Linked DNA regions of Homo sapiens: region 2 is linked to region 1. A link means that fine-mapping ties the variant in region 1 to the expression of a gene that starts in the linked region. Tissue or cell type: whole blood. Region 1 holds a variant in brackets; the other region holds the start of a gene. All regions are shown on one strand. Distances are between the middles of the regions.

Evidence for each region. PIP is the estimated chance that this variant, and not a neighbour inherited with it, causes the effect.
Region 2: it holds the start of DOCK6, and the variant in region 1 is fine-mapped to the expression of DOCK6 in whole blood (TOPMed, PIP 0.99).

What each region holds. Positions count from the first base shown.
Region 1 is chr19:11,227,836-11,231,835 of GRCh38, reverse strand. DOCK6 (dedicator of cytokinesis 6) reads left to right here. Exons shown (of 48, transcript NM_020812.4): 23 at 2,801-2,896. Among named protein-coding and RNA genes, the nearest start is that of ANGPTL8, 9.8 kb to the left of the region's middle. The variant C/T (reference allele first, on the strand shown) is at 2,349.
Region 2 is chr19:11,260,208-11,264,307 of GRCh38, reverse strand. DOCK6 (dedicator of cytokinesis 6) reads left to right here and starts at 1,784. Exons shown (of 48, transcript NM_020812.4): 1 at 1,784-1,911. The coding sequence starts at 1,868. RefSeq lists silencers at 1,700-1,859, 1,930-1,989, 2,070-2,209.

The DNA of each region.
Region 1 (4,000 bases):
TGGAATGGAACCTCTCGGCTCCCCTATCCCATTTTAGACAAAGAGCTCCCCTTACCCTGCCTCTTTCCAGGTACCTGGTGTAGGGGGACGCTTTGCCTCCAAACAGACCTGGGTTCAAGTCCTAGCTCTGCTATGAGCTCACCCCATGCTCTGAGCAATTGGATGCATCTTCCTGAGCCTCAGTTTCTTCATTTGTAAAATGGAGATAACACTCCAAATTTTCGGATGCAGTTTGGACTCAAAATATAGTGCTCCCCCAGCAGTCCTGAGCCTGTGCTTGAGTTAGGGCTGAGGGCACTGCAGTGGGATTTTGTTGGGATGATAGATTCTTGGTCTGGCCTTGACCCTGAGCTTCCAGCTAGTTGGGGAAATAGACACGGATCAAACAAATGCATAAGTATATGATCACACAGCGTGGAAAGGAAGCAAGTAGCAACCGAATACCAGCTTCCCTCTGGGTGGTCTTGGGGGCTTCTCCAGGGGAGTGACATCTTTTGCTGGGACCCGAAGGGTAAGATAGAGTCAGCTAGGGAAGGGTGGGTGGGTGTGGGTGTTCAGGAAGAGGGAAAGGCATGTACAAATATTGGGACCAAGGTCAGAGGACTGTACGCACAGAGAGGAGGCCACAGGGCTTGCTTCCTTACACACTTGGCCCTAGGGCCTATTCCAGCTCTGTGCCCATCACCAAGGTAACCTGTACCCTATGACAGGCCCAGGGGACTCCTAGCAGAACAAGCAGGGGGGGCCTTTGGGCAGTCATTTCCTTGGATTGCTGGGAATCTGGAAATCTGGGTGACACTGAGGCTGGGCCTTTTCAATGGAAGGCCCTCACGGTGCACAGTGAGTTGCCAGGGTATGGCTGGGACTGGGGTAGCTAGAGAGCCCTCAAGTGTCAGAGTAGGTCCCAGGGTTGGGTCGTCTCTGTCATCAGACCTCCTGTTCCTGCGAGCAGCCTCACCCCCTAACCAGCGAAGGAGGAAGCGAGAGTGGAGCTTGAACTCCTCTGCCTATACCCATTTCACAGATGGGGATACTGAGGCCCAAGCCAGGCTTGGGCAGGGCCAGGCCTGGAACCTTGGGCTCTCTCTGCTATTCCTGGCACCTCACCAACATCTCACCTCCTCTGTCCTTATCTTCCTGCCTTGTCTTTCTCCTCCTTCCCCATCTTGTGTTTAACCTCCTCTGTCCACACTCACCCTCCTCCACCTCTGCATCCTCCTCTCTGTCCTCTAGACTCACTGACTCGGTCACACTCTACACCTCGTCTACACTCACCCTCACCTTCTCTGGCCACACACATTCTTGCTGTCTACACTGATTTCATCTCCTCTGCCTTCACCCCACACACCATGTACCCATTCCCAGCCTTCGTGTGTTCTCGGTCCCACTCCATCCACACTCCTCCTGCCTGTTGTGGTTGCACTGCTGTCACTGGTCACTGGCGTACTGTGTTTTCATTGTTATTCTCACCTCCTCCATCACGTTCTTTTTTTTTTGAGACGGAGTCTCGCTCTTATCACTCAGGCTGGAGTGCAATGGTGCAATCTCGGCTCACTGCAGGCTCTGCCTCCCAGGTTCAAGCGATTCTCCTGCCTCAGCCTCCCAAGTAGCTGGAATTACAGGTGCCTGCCACCACGCCCAGCTAATTTTTGTATTTTTAGTAGAGACGGGGTTTCACCATTCACCATGTTGACTAGGATGGTCTCGATCTCCTGACCTCGTGATCTACCTGCCTCGGCCTCCCAAAGTGCTAGGATTACAGCATCCTCCTTTTTTTTTTTTTTTTTTTTTTGAGATGGAGTCTTGCTCTGTCACCCAAGCTAGAGTGCAGTGGTACCATCACAGCTCACCGCAACCTCCAAGTCCCAGGGTCAAGCAATCCTCCTGCTTTGGCCTCCTGAGCAGCTGGGACTACAGGCACACGCCACCAGGCCCAGCCATATATATATATTTTTGTTTGTTTGTTTGTTTTTGTCTTAGTAGAGTCAATGTCTGACTATGTTGCCCAGGCTGATCTTAAACTCCTGGGTTTGAGCAGTCTTCCTGCCCCAGCCTCCCAAAGTGCTGGGATAACAGGTATTGAGCCACCCCGCCCAGCCTCACGTTCTTCTCCCATACCCACACACCTTGATCTTGACTCACCCAGCTCTCTCCAGCGACTCTTTTATTTGTCCCTGCCTCCACTGCCCCGTCTACTCCCACAGCACCCTGGCCATTCCAACCAGCCTCCCCTCCCAACCCACGCCGGCCCATCTCTCTTTCTTGCCTGTCCCCATTGGCATCCATGGCCCTGGTCCATCCATGTGGAAGCATTTCTCTCTCTATATTCACACTAACCTACCTCTTTT[C/T]CCCATCCCTGTCTGTGTGAACACGTCTTTCCTCCAACCACATACCCCTTCACCTCATCCACACTAACCTTCTCCTCGCCATCACATCCCATCATAGGCCATCGACTGCAACTCTAGCCGAGCCTCCTCCTACCTCGAGGGTTCCTCCTCGGCCCCACCAGCCACCCAGCTGAGACCCACTGTGCAGAAGGTAGTGGGGGGAGGTGCGGATGACGCTATTTTTGTCCTGGTCCCCAGCAAAGGGGTCCAGTGCTCCTCCCCCATCCAGAGTCCAGGGGGGTCTGGCGAGCCCAGGGAAAGGGCACTTCCACTCCTCTTGTCCCCCTCCTCCTGCCTGGCTCCTGCTGCACTAACCCCGAGCCCTCCAGCTGCATCTTCCCCTGGCATGTCTCCAGAGGGGGTACGGGAAGGGGTGGCACCTCGCACTCTGTGACCCCTGCCTCTGTCCCCAGCTGCTTCACGAGGAGCTGGCTCTGCAGTGGGTGGTCAGCAGCAGTGCCGTACGCGAGGCCATCCTCCAGCACGCCTGGTTCTTCTTCCAGCTCATGGTGAGACCCCCTCCTCCCTGCCTGGTGGCAAGAGACCCCCAGTGGAGCCCCTTCCTTTTTTAAAGAGAGAAGCCCCCTGGCCAGGCATAGTGGCTCACACCTGTAATCCCAACACTTTGGGAGGCCGAGGCGGGCGGATCACGAGGTCAGGAGATCGAGACCATCCTGGCTAACACGGTGAAACCCCGTCTCTACTAAAAATACAAAAAAAAATTAGCCAGGAGTGGTGGCAGGCGCCTGTAGTCCCAGATACTCGGGAGGCTGAGGCAGAAGAATGGCGTGCACCCAGGAGGAGGAGCTTGCAGTGAGCCGAGATCGTGCCACTGCACTCCAGCCTGGGCGACAGAGCGAGACTCTGTCTCAAAAAAAAAAAAAAAAAGAGAGAAGCCCCCTGAAATTGCACCTGAGATATTTGAGAAATGGCCCCAAGAGACCCCCCCCCACAACCTAGGGAGGTGAGAGGCACTTAAGGTGGTGTCTCCCTGGAGAGACTGTACCTGAAACCACCTTTAGAGAGAGCCACCCTTCCCCATGAGACTCTTTAAGGAGAGAAACCATTAAGAGACCCTCACCTAGACAGGAGACCTGCATCCTGCAGGAGATATTCCTGGATAGAGAGAGAAAGCTGTGGTCAGGCACAGTGGCTCACGCCTGTAATCCCAGCACTTTGGGAGGCCGAGGCGGGTGGATCACTTGAGGTCAGGAGTTTGAGACCAGCCTGGCCAACATGGTGAAACCCCATCTCTACTAAAAATACAAAAGTTAGCCGGGCGTAGTAGTGCGTGCCTGTAATCTCAGCTACATGGGAGACTGAGGCAGGAGAATCGCTTGAACCCAGTAGGCAGAGGTTGCAGTGAGTCAAGATTATGCCACTGCACACCAGCCTGGGTGACGGCAAGACTCCATCTCAAAAAAAAAAAAAAAAAAAGAGGGAAAGCTTTCTGATCAAGGTAAGACACATCCCTAAAACTCTTCAATAGGTTATTTGAAGCCTCCTTCCCAGGGCCTGCTGGCTGCATCCCCTCTGGGCCTCCAATAAAGCTCCCTTCAAATCCAGTGCCTCAAGCCCCACCCTTTGTCCCACCTCTGACTTGCCCTGGGGAG
Region 2 (4,100 bases), 32 kb before region 1:
GGCCGAGGCGGGTGGATCACCTGAGGTCAGGAGCTCCAGACCAGCCTGGCCAACATGGTGAAACCCCGTCTCTACTAAAAATACAAAAAATTAGCCAGGTGTGATGGTGGGTGCCTGTAATCCCAGCTACTCGGGAGGCTGAGGCAGGAGAATCGCTTGAACCTGGGAGGCAGAGGTTGCGGTGAGCCGAGATTGTGCCATTGCACTCCAGTCTGGGCAACAAGAGCGAAATGCCACCTCAAAATAAATAAATAAATAAATAAATAAATAAATAAATAAATAAATAAATAATAGAGGATAAAATGCCAGCAACCCATAGATGGGAATGAGAACAGCACGTGCAAAGGCCCTGAGGCAGAGCCACGGCCTTGTCTGATTCAACCTCAAATTCTCCCTGGGGCATTTGCTGACCAGGGAAAGAAGGGCTGTCCAGGAGGAAGGACCTGCCGGTGCAGAGGCATGCAGGTGAGAAAGGGGTGAGCTCCTCCAGAGGGGAGTGTCGGCTGGAGAATTCTCTAAAAATGCTGCAGCAGTGCTGGGAGAGAGGCCAGTGGGGAGAGATTTGAGACCATAGATTAACCAAGACATCCCCACCTCTTCCTCTTGGTAGAGGCGGCCCCGAAAGTCTAGACTCCCAAACTGGCTCACTCAGGTCCCACCACCTGGACCTGGGGCACATCTCCGAGCACTCCAGTGCCTAGCCAGGCTCCTCTGACTCCCATGCTGTAGACTGGGAGCACGGACAATGCAGGCGCTGGAGACCCCTGTGAGTCACACTGAGCAAGCACCCGAACACCTCTGTGCCTCAGTTTACTCATCTGTAAAAGGAGGAAAACAATAATTTCTTCTGCATGTGTGAATTGCAGGGCCAGGCTCAATGACATCTTAGCAATTAGACTTTTTGAGACAGGGTCTCGCTCTGTCACCCAGGCTGGATTGAAATGGCACAATCACAGCTCACTGCAGCCTTGACCTCCCAGGCTCAAGCGATCCTCCTCCCTCAGACTCCCAAGTAGCTGAGATTACAGGCACACACCACCATGCCTGGTTAATTTTTGCATTTTTTGTGGACACGGGGTCTCATTATGTTGCCCAGGCTGGTCTCCAACTCCTGGGCTCAAACAATCCTCCTGCCTTGGCCCCCCACAGTGCTGGGATTACAGGCATGAGCCACCATGCACGGCCACGATTATACTTACAGGTATGATTATTAGATACATGAACATCGTTATTGTTTTCCAGCCAGGAGTCAGAGGGCAGAAAGAGCGCCCCCCAAACCCCGGAAATCTGGGGCCTACCCAGCCTGGGTCCCAGCGCCTCCCCTCCCTCCCTCCCTCCTGAGCTTCAGTTTCCCCAGCCCTGCTCCTGGGGTGGTAAGACCACCCCACTAAACCCCGGGAGCCTGGGGTCCACCTAGCCCGGGTCTCAGCGCCTCCCTTCCCTCCCTCCCTCCTCAGGCTCAGTTTCTCCAGCCCAGCTCCCAGGGTGGAAAGAGCGCCCCCGCCAGCTCGGGAGTCTGGGGCACCCCCAGTCTGGGTCCCAGCGCCTCCTCTCCCTAACTTCCCTCCTCAGCCTCAGTTTCCCCAGCCCTTCTCCTAGGGTAGAAAGAGCGTCCCCCCAGCCCGGGAGTCTGGGGCCCGCCCAGCCTGGATCCCGGGGCCTCCTCTCCGTCCCCAGCCTCAGTTTCCCCAGCCCCCAGGACTCCAGGCGACCCCTCCGGCCTGCAGGGGCAGCACGGAGCGGCCCGGGCCACCCGGAAGGGCCCCGCCCCCGCGCCGGCCCCGCCCCGCCCCGGCTGCCCAGAACCGGGAGGCGGCGGCGGCGGCGGGGCCGGGGCCCGGGGCGGCGGCGGCGGGACGCGAGGACCATGGCTGCCTCCGAGCGCCGCGCCTTCGCGCACAAGATCAACAGGTAGTGTGGCCGCGGGGCCCCCTCCCACCTCCCCCACGTGGCCCGGCTCCGCCCCGGGGCGGTGCGACCCTCCCCGCCCGGGCGCCCCCAATTCAACCCCTTTCCGCCTCGGCCCGGGTCCCGCCAGCTTCCTCCGGCCGGGGCTGGGAGCGGGAGAAGGCGGGGAGGGCCGCGGGGGTCCCGGCGGGGGTCCCAGATGGGAGTCGCGTCGGGGCTGGGAGCGCGATGGCGGCTGCCGTTCTGCCTCCGTGACGCGCGGGGGTGTGTCCGGAGGGCTTCCCGGAGGAGGTGGCGTGGGGATGCGGATGACGGGCGCCCCCTGAACTCCCTGCGCTCCCCGTCCGCCTCTCGGCCCCTCACTGTCCCCGCGCTCTCGGAGATCGGGGTGGGCCGGACTTTCTGTTCCTTCCTCAGTGCCTGGTTTGGGGCAGGGAGGCTCCAGGCTCTGAGATTTGGGGACAGAGATGGGCTCCTTGGTGGCGTTTGAAACCCCTCGAGGAGTTTCCCGTGCCCTTCCCCCTCCAGGGTCCAGTGCCCAGCTGTCGGGGGGGGGGAAGGGGGACAGCTGTGGACGCCCCCCCACCTTCTGCTTCAGGCTCTCCCGTCACGGGCTGGACCGCGCTGGGGATGGATGGGTGATTGAATGGAGGGAGTGGGGGCTGGGGACAGAACCAGCTGGTGGGCAGACGGGGGAGGGGACAGGCCCCAGGCGCTGGGGGATCCATTTCCGTGGCCACTGGGGATTGTGAGAGTCACAGCCTGGGAGGGGTATATCAGACTCTCTGGGGCTGAAAAGCCTCGCCCCCAGTTGGCGGGGGGTCTTTGCGACAAGGGTGCGTTCAGAAGCTCAGGTATCCTCTCCCCGGGGGACCTGTCCTGACTGCCCCCAGGTGAAAGAGCTGCCCTGTGGGTTGGGCCCTGGTCTTATGGAGACAAAAGATCCCCCTCTTGGGATATAGTGGCGGAGAGAGACCAGAAGCCTGATCGAGTAGATTACCTGTCAGTGACAAGTGCTGTAGGGACAAGAAGACAGGGAAGGGGGATGGGAGGGTGGGGGCTGCTTGAGATGCGGGAGGTGGGTCAGGAAGGCCTGGATGAGCAGGTGCCTTTGAGCAAAAACCTCAAGGAGATGAGAGAGGGATCGATCGAGGCCAGTTTGTGGGGGGAAAGAGTGGGAAGGGTTTGTGCAAAGGCCCTGAGGCAGGAACAGAGAGCTGGAGGGGGACAGTAAGAGTAGAATGTACAGGGTCGTGTGGGCTGTGCAAGGGACTTTGACTTTGGACCCCAGGTGAGGTGGGAGCCATGGGGAGTTCTCAGCAGAGGAGGGATGAGACTTGGTGGCTGGGGCGTAATGGCTGGGCAATTTTTATGTTCTATCATTATCTTTGTCTGTAAATTGGCTTTCAAAATGTCTTAGACCTTTGGCGTCTTTGAGGCTGCAAACATTATTGCTGTCTGTTTCTTTTTCTTTCCTTTTCTTTTTCTTTTCTTTCTTTCTTTCTTTTTTTTTTTTTGAGACAGAGTCTCGCTCTGTCACCCAAACTGGAGTGCAATGGCACAATCTTGGCTCACTGCAACCTTCGCCTCCTGGGTTCAAGCGATTCTTGTGCCTCAGCCTCCTGAGTAGCTGGGGTTACAGGCGCCCACTACCACACCCAGCTAATTTTTGTATTTTTAGTAGAGAGGGGGTTTCACCATGTTGACCAGGCTGGTCACGAACTCCTGACCTCAGGTGATCCGCCCACCTCCCAAAGTGCTGGGATTACAGGTGTGAGCCACTGCACCCAGGCTTTTTTTTTTTTTCCTTTTCTTTTTTTGAGACAGGGTCTTGCTCTGTCACCCAGACTGGAGTGCAGTGGTGATACCTTGGCTCACTGCAGTCTCAATCTCCCGGGCTCAAGTGATCCTCCTGCCTCAGCCTCCCAAGTAGCTGGGACTACAGGTGTATGCTGCAACACTCAGCTAACTTTTTAACCTTTTGTAGAAACGGGATCTCACTATCTTGCCCAGGCTGGCCTCAAACTCCTGGGCTCAAGTGATCCTCCTGCCTCGGCCTCCCAAATGCTGGGATTACAGGCGTGAGCCATTGCGCCCAGCTTGCTGTCTGTTTCTTTGCATTTTGGTCTGTATGTCCTTGGGTCCTGGTTTTTACTCAAGTGAGAAAGAGGGGTTTTGGATACTGTAGAGCT